2 separate regions of the Homo sapiens genome follow, and region 2 is linked to region 1. The links come from fine-mapping of genetic effects on gene expression. Tissue or cell type: blood mononuclear cells. Region 1 holds a variant in brackets; the other region holds the start of a gene. All regions are shown on one strand. Distances are between the middles of the regions.

Evidence for each region. PIP is the estimated chance that this variant, and not a neighbour inherited with it, causes the effect.
Region 2: it holds the start of RHOXF1-AS1, and the variant in region 1 is fine-mapped to the expression of RHOXF1-AS1 in blood mononuclear cells (TOPMed, PIP above 0.99). The same link has a PIP of 0.9 or more in whole blood.

What each region holds. Positions count from the first base shown.
Region 1 is chrX:120,085,209-120,093,316 of GRCh38, forward strand. All of the region lies in intron 1 of RHOXF1-AS1 (RHOXF1 antisense RNA 1), which reads left to right. Among named protein-coding and RNA genes, the nearest start is that of RHOXF2B, 12 kb to the left of the region's middle. The variant A/G (reference allele first, on the strand shown) is at 3,438.
Region 2 is chrX:120,031,842-120,039,949 of GRCh38, forward strand. It overlaps RHOXF1-AS1 (RHOXF1 antisense RNA 1), which reads left to right and starts at 4,395. Exons shown (of 5, transcript NR_131238.1): 1 at 4,395-4,691.

The DNA.
Region 1 (8,108 bases):
ACCAAGTCCAGTCTTTTGGATAAGTATGCTACCGGCCGATGCCAAGAGCCCAAGAACTGAGTTAAGACTCCAACTGCCATTCCTTGACATTCATCCACATACAAAAAAAGGGCTTTTTTACATTTGGCAACCCTAGTGCCGGGGCCTGGATGAGAGCTTCCTTTATATCCTTGAAGGCCTTTTCCTGTTTCTTTTGCCATAGGAGGGGCTCTCTTTCCTTTCCTTTTATAGCCTCATACAAGGGCCTTGCTGTAAGGGAGAAGTTTGGAATACAGATTCGGCAGAATCCTGCCACGCCTAGAAATTCCCTGGCCTTGTAACTGGGGTGGGCAGTGCACATACAGCCTCCTTGCGTGCACTTAAGCCTGCGCTGGCCTTGGGATACCATGAATCCTAGATATCCAACCTCCTGAAAACAGACTTTTGCCTTGTCCTTGGACACTTTATAACCAGCTTCACACAGCACGTGAAGAAGCCTCTCTGTTCCTTGGAGTCATTCCTCCCTCGTGGGGGCGGCAAATAGGAAATCATCAATGTGTTGTAATAGCACATAATTGTCACTAGGTGGCGCAAAAGCCTCAAGATCTGTAGCCAAGGCCTCCTCAAAAATGGTAGCATTCTTAAACCCTTACGGCAGCCTTGTCCAGGTATATTGCGATTGCCCCCTCTGACTTTGGGGAGCAAGCTTCAAACAAAAGAAGGCATCCTTTAAGTCCAGACATGTGAACCAAGTGGCATCAGCAGGAATCTGTCCCAACATTGTGTATGGGTTGGGTACTGTTGCATGGATAGCGACAGTGGCCTTGTTTACCACCCGGAGATCCTGCACTGGCCTGTATTCCCCATTTGATTTGTGCATGGGTAACAGAGGAGTATTCCATGAGGACTTGCATTTTACTATAATCCCATGTGTATAAAGCCGATTCAGATGCTTTTGTTATTCCATCAATTGCCTCCCTGGGTACTGGGTATTGACGGACTCATACCGGGGCAGCATGAGGGTTAAGCTCTGCTACCACTGGGGGTCTGTTTGCAGCAAGTCCAGGGTATTATCCTCGGCCCATACACCTGGTACCTTGAAAAGCATCCCCCATATATTGTGTAGGTCGGTTCTGGTGACCTTCTGGCACACGGTTCACACAGCCACCATTCCTCAGCCCTTGGGACAGTTGGAGTTCATACCATTGCCTTGGACTTTCCAAACTCCAGTGTCATATTCCCTTTAGGCGTAAAGAAAATTTCTGCCTGCAGTTTCTGGAGTAAGTCTCTCCCCAGCAAGGGCACTGGACAATTTGGCATATACGGAAACTCATGCTGCACTTCTTGTCCCCCAATAACACATCTCCTGGATTTGCAAAAAGGTCTCTTTTTTTTGGCCCCAGTAGCCCCTACAATAGTAGCACAGTTCTTTGTGGGGAGGCTAATTGGGTGAGTTACCACAGAGAAATCAGTACCAGTATCGACCAAAAAAATCCATTAATTGACCCCCTATTTCCATAGAGACCATAGGCTCCCCGGGGCCTAAAAAGATGGAGCCTGGTCTGTCTCAGTCCTCAAAATTCTTGGCCCCTGCTAAGCCAATCAGATCAGGATCTGCCCTTGATGCACCATGACTAGCAACCGAATAACGCACTTGGGTGTTAGACCATTGACCATCATTTCCATCCTTTTCCTTTTTGGGTCACTCATCTTTCCAGTGGCCCATTTTCCTGCACTTTGCACATTGGTTCCTGTCCAACCAAGATTGGCTTTCCTCTCCTGGTCTTGTCTGCCCCCTTCCTCGACCTCTGCCTTGGCCACGCCCTCTAGCAAATTCAGGGTTACTTTCTGCTAGTGCAGCAGCTATAAATTGAGCCATCTCTGTTCCTATATCTGGTTTTTCTTTCTTCCTTTGGTTGGGCTGCCTGAGCCACTAATGCCTTATAATATCTCTTTAGACAGGGCTGTAGACACTTGGGGTGAGTTTGTGCTACACTGAGCCAAGAGTCTATATAGGGAAACTGGTCTGGGTATCCTGGTTGTCTTCCAACTCCGGTGACCACGTTAAACACACGGCCAATTAATTTTCTGTCTATTGTACCTTCAGAGGGCCACCCCACATTGAAAGCAGGCCAATCTATTTCACAGTATGTCCTTAACTTTTGAGCATCCAGTTTCATCCCATAATCACCTCTAAATCCTTTTTTAAAATTCTTTATCACGCACTCCAAAGGAGTTGGCTTCGACACTTTTCCTCCCATTTCCTCCCTTGCAGTGCACTTTCCCTCTCACTTTCACTCTCAGATCCACCAGACCAGGTCCTTTTATGGGAGTTTCAGACACTGCTTAGCCAGGAATGTGCCTTCCCCTGTCACAGCCTGCTGTGGCTGTGAAACTGGTCCCATTGGCCGTATGCGGCATCCTAGGTCTGATTTCTTCCACGCTCACCTTGGAGTACACAGCCTGCCCTAAGGGATCTGTGCCTCCTCACGTTACTCCCCGCATTGGCCTCTCCCAAGACCATCTCTTTCATACACTTTCACACACCTCCCCTGCCCAGGACTCCTCATCAGACGAAACGAGCCTCTCTCATGTCCTGGGTGGGTTCACACACACCCACACACTCCCAGTTCCTGTCTCCAGATCCAGTAAACCACTTTCACTTTGTTAATGGGGACACGAGGTTCATCCAAATTAGCAAGCCTCTCCTGCCACCCCCAGCTGCTCTGGGTTGGATTAGTGGTCATTCCCTGGGAGGTGATCATCCTTATGGGACAGGCTTCCCTGCCTTAGGCACTTGCTCCTTACTACAGTTCCTGAAGTGCTGGCATCGTCCTGCAGCCCTGTTCCTGGTTCTGTTGCATTGCCGGGCAGTCTGCTGGGATGTGGGGAGAGCCAGTCTCTGTCTGGGTGAAGCTCCCCTGTGGCGTGCCTTGGATGCTGGGTCTCCCCAGCCCTGGGGCTCTAGTCCCCCAGGCAAATGAGACAGTAAATCTGTTGTCTCCAATCCCAGGCGAGTTCCCAGAAATGTTACGAGATTTTTAAGGAATCAGAGAGACCAATGGGGCTCAGGAGGATATTTATTAATTATTTAGGTGCACTGGTCCAGTCGGATTAACATCCAAAGGACTGAGCCCTGAACAGAGTTAAGTTACCTTTTAAGCATTTCGTGGGTCGGGGGAGATCTGTGCAGAGGAAAGTATACTACAGAAGTGAGAAACAAAGGCAATTGAGACATGCATTATATCATTTTTTACTTTTCAAGGAAAAACATGTTTTGCAACTTGAGTTTTTCTGTCTAGTGACCTTGCAGCTGCACAGCTAAGGAGACAGGGTCTTCACAATGCCTGGGAAAGTGGGAGAGATAAGGCTCACTAGCCACAGAAAAACAGGCAGTTAATTTTAAAGGACTTCAGCTCTTTCTCTTTCTTAGGGGGAATTGGGTTTTCTTACATACA[A/G]CTGAGTTTCTGCTTGCACACTCTTTAATTTCTTTTAATTCCTGTTCCATACATACACTGGAATATTCTTTTGGAATGTGTTCTTCCTTTTCTTTCTAAGGGATACAGGCACAGAAATTTGTGGCCTATAGCTGACTGTCCTGTTGAGAATTACTGAACTGAACTGAGCTGGTTGAGAACTTTGTTATAACTTTCACATTTTATTGTACTTTTGACAAAGGGCAAAAGAAAAGTTAAGTTCTGTGTAGAATAAACCCAAAGCTATGTTTGCATAATCTTATCAGTTGTTTTGTATGTTGGCAGATACTATCTTTACTTTCAGAAAACACAGAGAGATCAATTATTATACTTGATCTACAGAGTGCTCAGATAATATAATAAAGTAAGTATGTGATTTCTACTATGATCCCAAAGAATTATATTCACAAAGGCAGTAGATAAAAGGTAGGGAAAACAATGAGAACATCCAGTATTACTTATACAAGAAAACAATGTGATTTCCCATGTGTTTAAGAGTTTCATTGGGCCGGGCGCGGTGGCTCACGCCTGTGGTCCTAGCACTTTGGGAGGCCGAGGGGGCGGATCACGAGGTCAGGAGATTGAGACCATCCTGGCTAACACGGTGAAACCCCGTCTCTACTAATGGTACAAAAAATTAGCCGGGCGTGGTGGCAGGTGCCTGTAGTCCCAGCTACTCAGGAGGCTGAGGCAGGAGAATGGCGTGAACCTGGGAGGTGGAGTTTACAGTGAGCCGAGATCACGCCACTGCACTCCAGGCTGGGCGACAGAGTGAGACTCCATCACACACACACACAAAAAAGAGTTTCATTGATACATTATGTGCATCTTCTTTTGTGCCACTTACCACATGGTTACATGGAGGAGTGTTTTGTTTAGCATATACATTTTCCTTCTCATGCTAATGTATTTTGTTTTTAGAGGCTAAAAAGCAGTCAAGGTCCAGGGAGCCCACTCTTTTCTTTTACCTTACAGACCTTGGTGTTTGCGGTGGGTCTATAGGGTAATCATAGAGTTTTCAGGCTAAGCCTGTAAGAGTGGTCCACCGTAGATATGACCTTGGACCTGACTGGAAAAGAGAAAAACATCAACATCACCATCAGATATTCAGCCATTAGAGGAACAGCTTTGCCACAGTATTTTAGTTCTGCACAAGGCACTATTCAATGAGGCAGTCCACTGTGTGGCAAACACACCTGTTCAAGTGAGGCTGGATTGTTCTGAGAGGTCTTAAGATTTCATGACTCTCAAGGATCTGCCCACCTGGGACTGACCAGCACAGTACTCAGGGTCTATGGACTTCAATGTTGGAGGATGGACCTCAGCTTGGTAAAATCCTGGGCTATAACCACCTCCTCTTGTAACCAAAAAGCAGGTTAATTGGACTTAGAGTCCAATTAACAAGAGCAAGGCCTTGTACAAGAAAAGTGAATTTATTTCCGAAGCTAGCTAGGGGAAGGGGCATAAAGTGTCTTGTTTTAAATGTGATGCTTCACCTTTGTAGCAAAAGTGAAATCTTTTCTAAGTTGACCAGAGAAGTGAGCAAGGGCAGGGGGTCTCCCTGCTACCCTGGTTTCTTATCTACCAGACAGTTGAGTTGGTGCCTTTCTGGGCAGAAATAAGTTGTAAAAGTGGCTAAATGGAAAGCATGCCCTCCTGAGGTGACCCTCTGGAGGTGGGATTTCTGTGGGGACATGCTTTGATCTGCACTTCAACTATCAACTCTAGAGGAGAGCTCCATCTTGGGGCACACGGATGAACTTGCGCTGTAGGGAAAGTCTGGTGACTGGGAGGAGAGAGGTTATTTTGCATTTCAAAAAGGGCTAAATAGGAAGCAGGGGGAAAGGAGAAAGGAGAAAAGAACAGAAAAAAATAATTAAACTACCACTTAGAAAAATGGGGGTACTTGGTTACACTCTTATTTCTGAGGTCAGTGTGGTGCCCTTTATCTTGAAAGGATTTAACTTCGGCTATAGTTGCTTAGAACTTACTAAATCTAACTTTGAATCATATTTTAAGTTAGAAAGTATTTTGCTGTCCCCTGCTTGGCCTTTCTAGTTATCTTTTCACATGAACATGCTTTATCTTTCCAACTAGGTTGTGAGGATGGAAACATTAGTTCATTCAGCTTTTCTTCCCCATAGTGCCAGACACCTAGGTACTTTAAAGGTGTTGACAAGCTATCTACTGGCTGAGTGGCTTATTTGAGAAAAATACAATGTCAGAATTTCACCTGCACTTCATTGCTGGGAGCCATCAGCTTGCTAGACGTAGACATGAAGAGGAGAAAGCATGAAGAGAATGGGCAAGGGGGAGGAGGGAATGAGGGAAGAAGATAACTAAGGGATGGTGTAATAGGGAGGGCAGAGAAGAGATGGGAGAAATTGAGTTGTATGACTTCAGAGCAAGTGTCCTTAAACATAGGGCATATTAGGAAAGACTATGCCCCCTTAAAGTTTGGATGGAACCTAAAATCTGTACACTTGTCAGCTAAATTGGTCTCCTTTGATAATATTGGCAACATGTGTCACGAAGATTAGACACAGAAATTGGAGAGATTGTAAGAAGTGTGCAGAAAATATTTCCATGGAAGATCCAGCCTAGTTGGCAGCCTCAGGTAGGATCATAATTGAAATGCTAGAATGTTACAGTAGGCATTGTTCCAGGGCTAAAACTTGTTATTCATAACTTCAACTCTAATTTTATTCACTTGAATTTTCAGAGTGCAGCTGTAAGGGGCCACAAAAGGTTCCCTGGCTTAGTTGCTATTCTGTAATTACATGTAAAGCCCTGATCAACTTCCCGAAAGCCTGTGCAAGGCTTTTCTTTCTTTCTTTTTTGTTTTGTTTTGTTTTTTTTTTTTGAGACACAGTCTCGCTCAGTCGCCCAGGCTGGAGTGCAGTGGCTTGATCTCCGCTCACTGCAAGCTCCGCCTCCTGGGTTCACGCCATTCTCCTGCCTCAGCCTCCCAAGTAGCTGGAACTACAGGCGCCTGCCACCAGGCCCAGCTAATTTTTTTTGCATTTTTCTTTTTTAGTAGAGACTGGGTTTCACCGTGTTAGCCAGGATGGTCGCGATCTCCTGACCTCGTGATCCGCCCACCTCGGCCTCCCAAAGTACTGGGATTACAGGCGTGAGCCACCGCGCCCGGCCTGTGCAAGGCTTTTCTTGAGAGCATGTGCTGAGACAATTTTTTATTTCAAATCACAGAATTAAGAATTATGTCATTGGTTAGAAGGGTAGAGCATAACTTACATTAGTATATTTGCAATGACGTATTTGCTTTCCTGAGGTAGTGTGAGGAATAAGAAGGCAATAGATATTCATATTTCTGAGTGTACTTTTATAAAGTGAAACACTTTTGAAACTCACTGTTTAAACAATAACAAAAAACAAATATTGTATGTTCTTACTCATAAGTGGGAGCTAAGCTATGAGGATGCAAAGGCATAAGAATGATACATTGGAGTTTGGGGACTCGGAGGAAAGGGTGGGAGTGGGGTGGGGGACAAAAGACTACAAATTGGGTTCGGTGTATACTGCTTGATTGATGGGTGTCCTAAAATCCCACAGATCACCACTAAACAACTTACTCATGTAACCAAATACCACCTGTTCCCCAAATACCTATGGAAATAAAAAAACAACTTAATAAATAAATTCTAAAAATAATAACAAAACTCACAAATCTAAAGAAACTTAAATGAAAACCTGGCCAAAGGTTTTACCATTTTTAGCTTCTGAGTTATGCTTTTGTTTTATTTTAACTGATATTCTTGAAATATTTAATTTTATAAAACTAAACTTTGAAATGTGAATGTCTTTTCCCTTGACATCACTCGCAGTATCAAAAAGAAGTAAATGTATTGCTGTGTATGTTTAGTTATATCTATGATTATATGTATTTCATGTGCAGTTGTACATATGAATTTAGAGTTGTCATTTTCAATTAATTTATAAAATTTTTACAGTTCTATGTTACTCCTATAATTGGTATGTGACAAACCTCTCAGTGTTCCTTCTACAGATATCCAACTTTAGATACTGATAATAAGAATTAAATTAATAGCTTTCGTCACTTACTGAGTCCCTGCTCTTTACCTGCCAGGCGCAGTGTTAGACATGCATGCATTGCGTCTTTCACTTGTCACAGCAATGGTGTAAGGTAGATGTTATTCCTATCCTCACCTTTCTACCTATCTCCTACTAAGGCAGCACAATGTATCTCAGCTGATTTAAGGAGTTAAATTTAGGTAACATCAAATCAAGTAGAAGTATAGAATTTAAAAATCATCAGTGCAATTATTTGATAAAGCATAATGTCAACTCTGGAAGAAGGATAACTTTTAAAGTTATGAAGCAATAAAAAAATCAGAAAGAAAAATATGGACCACAAAACTAAGAAAAAGAGGAAAACAACAGAATGGGGAAATATTTGTAGTGAAAAACGTAAGCATTAGTTATTTTAAATGTATTTTTTAAGTTATTAAACATTGGAAGAATACCACCAAATGTCCAAACGTTCAGTGAAGAATAAAACAAATCACAGAACAAAAAGCACATAGAAGAGCCTTAAAAAAGGTGTTAACTTCACTATGCAACAAGGAACTATAAATATATTTTTAAATTAAATTTATATTTTATTTTATTATA
Region 2 (8,108 bases), 53 kb before region 1:
ACAGTCAGGGATATAGAAGACTATTAACAACATTACTAAGTCTATTACTAAATCTGTCAATGTGTAGTTCTGATATCTTTCCACTTTGCCTTCGGAGGAGAAATTACACACTAAGTTTATGTCCTTAGATGAATTTCACAGCTGAATAGTGAGGGACTGCAAAATAACCGGTGAAAATGAGAGTTGGTCAGAATCAGCATTAGGGTCTGAATTTTTCACCTTTCTTTATGGTATATGCTATGGAAAATATCAATTAACTTGTAACTTGAGCTTTACCTTTTTACTCTATTGCTAGGAGTGAATCATATTACAACTATTTGAAGCTAGAAGACTGTAGTGGTGCTGTGTATCTTGGATTTCTCTTGATTTTTTGCAAGTGCAGTTAGCCAGAAGGTTTTTTTATTTTTTATTTTATTTTATTTTATTTTATTTTATAGCAGTTCTGACTGATGTGGTCCAGCTACCCTCAGAGCCACTGACCTTGGGCCAATATGTTGCCTACTCTTAAGTATTTTGAAATACTGCATGGAAAAAAATGTCATTTATTTGGTTGTATTACTATATTTAATTAGTTGAATAGATATGGTTAGTTTAATTTGTTAACTTGGCTAGGTGATGGTACCCAGTTATTCAAACACTAATCTAGATGCTGCTGTGAGGGTATTATATAGATGTGGTTAACATCTATAATCAGTTGCTTTAAGTAAAGGAGACTGTCTTGGATAATCTTGGTGGGCCTCATCCAATCAGTTGAAATGCCTTAAGAGCAAAACTGATATGCCCAGAGGAAGAAGAAATTCTGCCTGCTGACTGCAGCCTCAGTTTCCACCTGAGAGTTTCTAGGCTTCCCAAGTTCCCTACAGATTTTGGACTTACCTAGCTGGACCCCACAATCATCTAAGGCAATTCCTTGAAACAAATCAAATACATATATACCCTGTTGGTTTTTTTTTTTTTTTTTTTCTGAAAGAACCCTGACTAATACAGATTTTGAAACTAGAAGTGGGATGTTGCTGTACTAAAGACCTAAAATGTGGAATTGGCTTTGGAATTAGGCCATGGATAGAGACTAGAAAAATTTTTGAGAAGCGTGATAGAAAAAAACCTAAATTGCCCTGAAGAGACTGTTGTTAGAAATAGGAATATTAAAGTTGATTGTATAGAGGTCTTGGAAAGAAATGAAGAAAATGTTACTGAAAATGGGAGGAAAGGCAATGCTTGTTATACAGTGACAGAAAACTTGGCTGAACTATGTTCTTCAGTCACATGGAAAGCAGAACTTGAAAGTGATGAACTTGGATATTTGGCAGAAATTTACAGGCAAAATCCTTAAGATTTTTCTTTGTGAACCCCAAGATCTTTACCCTAAAATGGTTCTGTTGAATTTTACCCTGACAATGTAAATTGATAGCTTATCTTCATAACCTGGTTTCTCCTTGCTGCTTATAGTAAAATGTAATATTGATACAGACAGGAGACAGGGAAATACTGGGTAGAAGAGGGTGGTTTCCCAGCAAAGGCCCCACCCTCAAGTCTGGAAACCCGTGGCCCTAAATGGGAACAAGCGTTCCTGTTTTTGTGCCCAAATGCTGCCTTTTGGCCTGCCACGCCCCTGTATCCTGTACCTGTATAAACTCCAAACCCCAGGATCCACAAGCAGATGAGCAGACAAGCAGAAGAGCAGAGGAACAGAAGAGTGGTGTGGCAGAGAAGGAGAGAAGAGAAGGAGCTTCTGAACATCAAGAGGAGTTAGGCTGGGGACGGTAGGAGAGGAGATCAGCCAAGGGACGACTGAACTCCAGGGGAAGATTATCTTCCCACTCCATTCCCTTTCCAGCTCCCCATCCATCCTGCAGAGAGCCACCTCCATCCAGCAATAAAATACGCCACATTTACCATCCTTCAATTTGTCTGTGTGACCTGATTCTTCCTGGATGCTGGACAGGAACCCAGTACCAAGAGGGCACTGAGCTGTTTAACACTTAAGCTGTCCCTGGATGGCAGGGCTAAAGGAGCATTGTAACATCCCTGGATATTGCTGTAGGCCCAGAGCCCAAAAGTGCTTGCCCTAGCTCAAATGCGTGCTCCCCCTCCCATAAGGGGTTTGAGCATGCAGTGGCCAAACAGACGAGCCACACCCCTGTTGCAGGCCCTGCAAGGGGGGTCAGTGAACTCTCCCATTTCAATGTGAAAGATATAAATTGAGGAAAGAACTATTAGGCAAAAAGTAACTAGCACTTGATTTTGGAGGTTCTCAGCCTATCGTGATTCCAAAGGATGCCAAAATTAGAAAATTTATTGTCGCAAAAGCATACTCTGAAGAGAAGGCCAACAGTATGGCTGGACAATCTTGCTAAAGAGATTATATATGTGATTCATGGATCCAATCAACCATATCAGCTGAAGGCAGGAATAGAGATGGGTTTATCCAGGAAGGATCTTGTCTAATGACATGGACTCCCATAACACACACGAGACTGATAAGGATTTTGAGAATGTTATATCAACAGAAATACTGGCATCTTGGAGTAAAGGAGATAGATATGGGATGAAATGAAGGAAGACTGTTGGACTTCTGGAAATCTATAGGCAGGATATGAGCTGACAGGGCTACTAGACTGCAAAGACACATTAGCCTTCAAGAAAAAGGAAGAGTGAATTATGAGGGTGGCACAGAAGCTGGTGGATCACTGCAAGACCAGATGGCAGAACATTGAGCTAAAGAGGATTGTTCCTAGGCCTTGAAATCTAATGGAATTAGCTATGCTAATTATTTATTTATTTACTTTTTTGAGATGAAATCTCATTCTGTCACGCAGGCTGGAGTGCAGTGGTACAATCTCAGCTCACTGCAACCTCCACCTGCCAGGTTCAAGCAATTCTCCTGCCTCAGCTTCCTGAGTAGCTGGGATGACAGGAACTCACCACAATGCCCCTCTAATTTTTGTATTTTAGTAGAGACGAGGAGGGGGGTTTCACCATGTTACCCAGGCTGGTCTCGAACTCCTGACCTCAAGTGATCCACTCACCTCAGCATCACAAAGTGCTGGGATTATAGGCGTGAGCCACCACACCTGGCCCTGCCATGCTAAATTTTGAACTTACTTGGGACAAGAAACCACTTTATGCCTCCCATATTCATTCTTTTGGAATGGTAATGTCTTGTAAAAGGAAAATAAATCTCAGGACTCCAAAATCATTAAGCCAAAGGGAAAAGTCAAGCTGGGAACTGCATCAGGCAAACCTACCTCCCATTTTATTCTTAAATAAGATAGCTACAAACAAAAAAAAAAGCTACATACATGTCTCACAATTTGTCCACTGGGACATTCCTTTTGAGCCCCAAGATGTTTACCTTAAAATGGTTCTGTTGAATTTTACCCTGACAATGTAAATTGATAGCTTATCTTCACAGGTTCTAGACAAAGAACAGAACTCAAAGTCATCCTTCTGTTCATCTGAGACAGATGCATATCTGATTGCTTTCCTAATGTAAAAATGCAGATTCACTGAGCTGACAAAGGCATAAGTAACTATTCCTCTACCCTTCTCTCACATGTAAACTGTGTATTCAGTGAAAGGTTTATCAAACACTCAAAATAATGCAACCATTTGTCTGTTATCTACCCACACCTTTAATTTTTTTTCCTTTTCCCCCAATATCTGCCCTTTTGCCTTTAAATACTGAAGTCCACAAAATCTTCTTTGGAAAAAGGCATAGACCTGCCTTCCAGATGCATGTTCTTAACCTTGGTAAAATAAAATTTCCAAGTTAATTGAGACCTAGCTCAGATACTTTTTGGTTTACAAATTGGTAACCACCAAGGGATTCTGAGTGGAGGTGCCCCTGACCTTTGACAAATCTTCTATTACTGCTTGGTACCAGCTTGAGATATCTTTATTGCTCAAATCAATAGGCAGATTTGCTGAGGCCTGGGAACTTCCCCCCTCCAGACAATCCCTTGTAGCAGGACGAGCTGCAGACAAAATCTTTCAGACACTGAGTTGTAGAAGGAAGGGCTTTATTCAGCTGGGAGCATCGGCAAGCTACTGTCTTAAAATCCGAGCTCCTCGAGTGCACAGTTTCTGTCCTTTTTAAGGGCTCATAACACTAAAGATTTCACATGAAAGGGTCGTGATTGATTGAGCAATCTAGGGGGTATGTGACAGGGGCTTCATGCACCGGTAGTCAGAGTGAAACAGAACAGAGCAGGGAGTTTCACAGCGTTCTTCCATACAATGTCTGGAATCTATGGATAACATCGGTTGCTAAGTCATGAGTTGATTTTTAACTACTAGGTTTAGGCCAGGCAGGCCCAGGCCTGGTTTCAGTTCTGGTTTTGGGTCTGGTGCCTGGCTGCCTGCCCTTGGTTTCACTTCCTTGTTTTTTTCTTAAAACAGGTACTGAGTATAAAACAATATAAAACAATATGAGAGGGTCCGTCTCTTCCCTCACCCTGATCTCCCCAAATTTGGTCGATATCTAAGGTTTTTTTTTGCTGTACAACTCCTTTTCTGGAGTTTTACTCACTTTCAACAAGGAAGGTGAGTTTTCCTGCTTCCATGATGATGGAGGGCAGGCAACTCCTTTCTGGAGTTTCAGCTCAATTCCAACAGGGAAGGCGAGTTGGAGTTTTTTTCCTGCTTATAGGCTGGTAGAGAGCAGTGTTGAGCCTGGACTCCATTCCTAGGTAAGTAGCTGAATTGGGGTTTTATCTTGAAAATTCTCCTTAATGACCTAAAGTTAAGATTAACAACCAGCAGCTCTTAATTTCTCCTTACCATTAGAGTGCTCAGGAATTGTATACATAGTATGATCATTTGTTTGTTTTGCCAAACTGTTTTTTCATTTATTTGTTTGTTTTGTTGTTTTGGTCTTTTTCCCATTGGATTTGACTAACTCTACCCAACTATATCAAATGTGAAGGAAAGTTACAAATGGTGAGGAACAACGCCTCTGCATTGGGTAAATTCCTGCAGCTGGGGGGGAAAAGGGAAAAGGATAAACAGCCATCAACAGGAAAAAAGAAAGATTTTGACTACCTGAGGGGCTTTATTTACATAACAAGGCCACCTTTTGCTAGCCAAGCCAAACTGTGCTCCACACTGCAGTTCTGTAGCTAAGGTTTTGCCCTTTTTTCCACCACAACAGCCTGGGTTTGGTTCCTAAATCAAGTTCTTTCTGGTTTGATATTTGTGTTATTTTTGAAATATCAGCAATTTGTTCCAGCTAAAATAGGGTAGTGAGATTTAGAAGAATTTTTTAAGAGCTTAGTGGCTAAAAGTCAGTTTAATTAAAAGCTAATATCCACGATGTGTGTGTGTGTGTGTATATTTAAAAGGCCTTTATGGTTTTTTGTTTTGTTTTGTTTGTTTGAGAAGGAGTTTCACTCTTGTTGCCCAGGCTGGAGTGCAATGGTGCGATCTTGGCTCACTGCAACCTCTACCTCCCGGGTTCAAGCAATTCTCCTGCCTCGGCCTCCCAAATAGCTGGGATTACAGGCATACGACACCACACCCAGTTAATTTTGTATTTTTAGTAGAGATGGGATTTCTCCATGTTGGTCAGGCTGGTCTCAAACTCCCGACAACCTCAGGTAATCTGCCTTCCTCAGCCTCCCAAAATGCTGGGATTACAGGCGTAAGCCACCGTGCCTGGCCTGTTTTTTTTTTCTCTCCTAGTACCTTGTTTTTTGAGAAAAAGGTTTTTTCCTTCTCAGTCAGTCAAATGAATTCTGTTTTCTCCATTTACTTCTGCCTATCTCTCCTTTCTCTTGTTCCCCTCTGCTGCATGAGGGACCCAAAATAGTTTCTAACAGCCTGTAATTCCTTAAATAAAACAGAGAAGGCACTAGAGTCCTTTTTGAGGAGAAACATCTGTTTTTCCTTATGGAACCCCAAGAGTCTAAACAGACAAGTTCCTCTCAGATCTTAAACTGCTTGCTTTTGTACTGTGTTACCTGATTTTTGGACTAAGTTATTACAACAGAGGCTACTCTTCGGGTGTTTAAGATAAGAAAAGGTATACTTTAGACACTTAGAGGAAAGTCTTTGTAACAAAGTGCAGTGCAAATGCATCACATGGTCTAGAATCATGATAATTCTATCTTTTGGAGATCCAGGATTCAGCGTGGGCTCTGCCCAGAGCTGAGATCCAGTTAAAAGCTAGAGACTAGGCTGGGCACAGTGGCTCATGCCTGTAATCCCAGCACTTTGGGAGGCCAAGGTGGGCAGATCACGAGGTCAGGAGTTCAAGACCAACCTGGCCAACATGGTAAAACCCCATCTCTACTAAAAATACAAAAATTAGCGGGGCATGGTGGCAAGTGCCTGTAATCCCAGACACTTGGGAGGCTGAGGGCATGCCCAGCCGATGCTACACTTTTAAACAGCCAGATGTCATGATTACTCACTATCATTAGAACAAAACTAGAGGGGAAATCTGCCCCTATGATCTAATCGCCTCTCACCAGGCCCCATCTCCAACACTGGGGACTACAATTTGATATGCCTTTGCAATATCAATTGCTGCATACCAAGTTCTCTCTGTTTTGGGCCTCTGTAATAGTCACAATGTCAGGTACTGCTGGTGCCAAAGGTGGTATTACGCATTGAGCTGCCTAAAATCAGTGGTAAGTCTCCAAGAAACCAAGGTCTTGTGCACAGGCCAGATGGGGCTATTGAATGGAGAAACAGTCTCATGAAACATTTTGGCTTCCTTAAGCTCAGCAATGATGGCAATTATTCTTTTTCTCCCCTAGGCAGCTGACATTGTTTTTTGGGAAACAACAGTACTAGGTGTTGGTCATCAGATGGGTCCATGGTCTTCTATATTTCTCACTAAGATGGCCATAACTATTGCAATTCCTGTCAGGGCTTGGAGGCAAAGGCAAGTGGGGCTGCACATGGAAAACACATCACTGCCAATATTTCATTCAGTAGTGGGGGCCATGACAACGGAGGTTAGTAGGAGCCCAAAGTCAGAGAACACGATCTGTTTTCTCCTCATCTTGATGCAAGGGTTTGTGGGGATCACAGTCACCTGTGTACTGGTATCTAAAAGGCCTAAGAAGTGCAATTCCTCTCCACTGTTCAGTTGAACTCTAACCTTGGCATAGGGCCTCTGGGTCCCCTGAGTACAGAAGGATCTTGTTTATAACCCCTAAAATCTTTGGATTTTTGTTTGTAACCCCTAATCTTGTTTATATTTGAAAGCTGAGTGTCAGAGCAAAAGTTGCTCAGGATCTCTGATTTGTCTCCAAATCCACCAGGAGAGGTGGAAGGCCATCACTGTGCAGACTCTAGCGGGACCACTTATCAAATCCCCATGGCCTGGTACTTGGCCCTGAATTTTTTAGTGGGGAGCCCATCAATCTGCTTTCGTGGTTCCATTATTGAGTAATCAGACTCAGAGATCTCTTTGGGAAGGCCCTTGCCCAGACAGTCCAGAAGAGGGCACTCAAGTACTATTTTTATGCTCCCTTTTTGGAGGGGAGGGGTCAAATTTTGCTATTTTATCGGAAGCCATTTCTTCTGTGCCTGAGAATTTCTGAGTTAAGATCTGGATCACACTGCAGATTGATGGACTTGACCTCAGGAGGTGGCTTAATTGGGCTTGACAACAAGCAGGAGCAGCATGAACAAACCCGTAAATCTAAGTCTGGTTAATCTTCTCATCTACCGTTCCCACTCCCTCGTAGTAGACCCAAGAGACCACCAGGAGGGCTGCAGGACCTCCATAGTCTCTGCGAAGGTGGTTGAGACATGTTTTTCAGTGACTAGGTACTCATTATGTGTGGACCAAATCTGTCAGAGACCAAATAGTACCCAGCTGAGGAAAGAGATGGTCGTTGGTATACATACACTCTCATCTCCCCACCTTGCTCCTCCTCCTCAGAGAAAGTGGCCACTATCAAGGCACTATGGAGGAGGGGGTCTGTAGTGATGTACCCCTCAAGGAGCCACTTTCCTTTATGAAGTTTATTTAACAAGATTACCTTTTTCGTAATGGAAGCAAACTAGCCAAGTCTCTGTGGTTTCTTCCCCTAAGCAAGTCTTCCTTCTGGCTTGGCTGCTGGGCATTGACCCTATCTAGTGAGATCACTGGA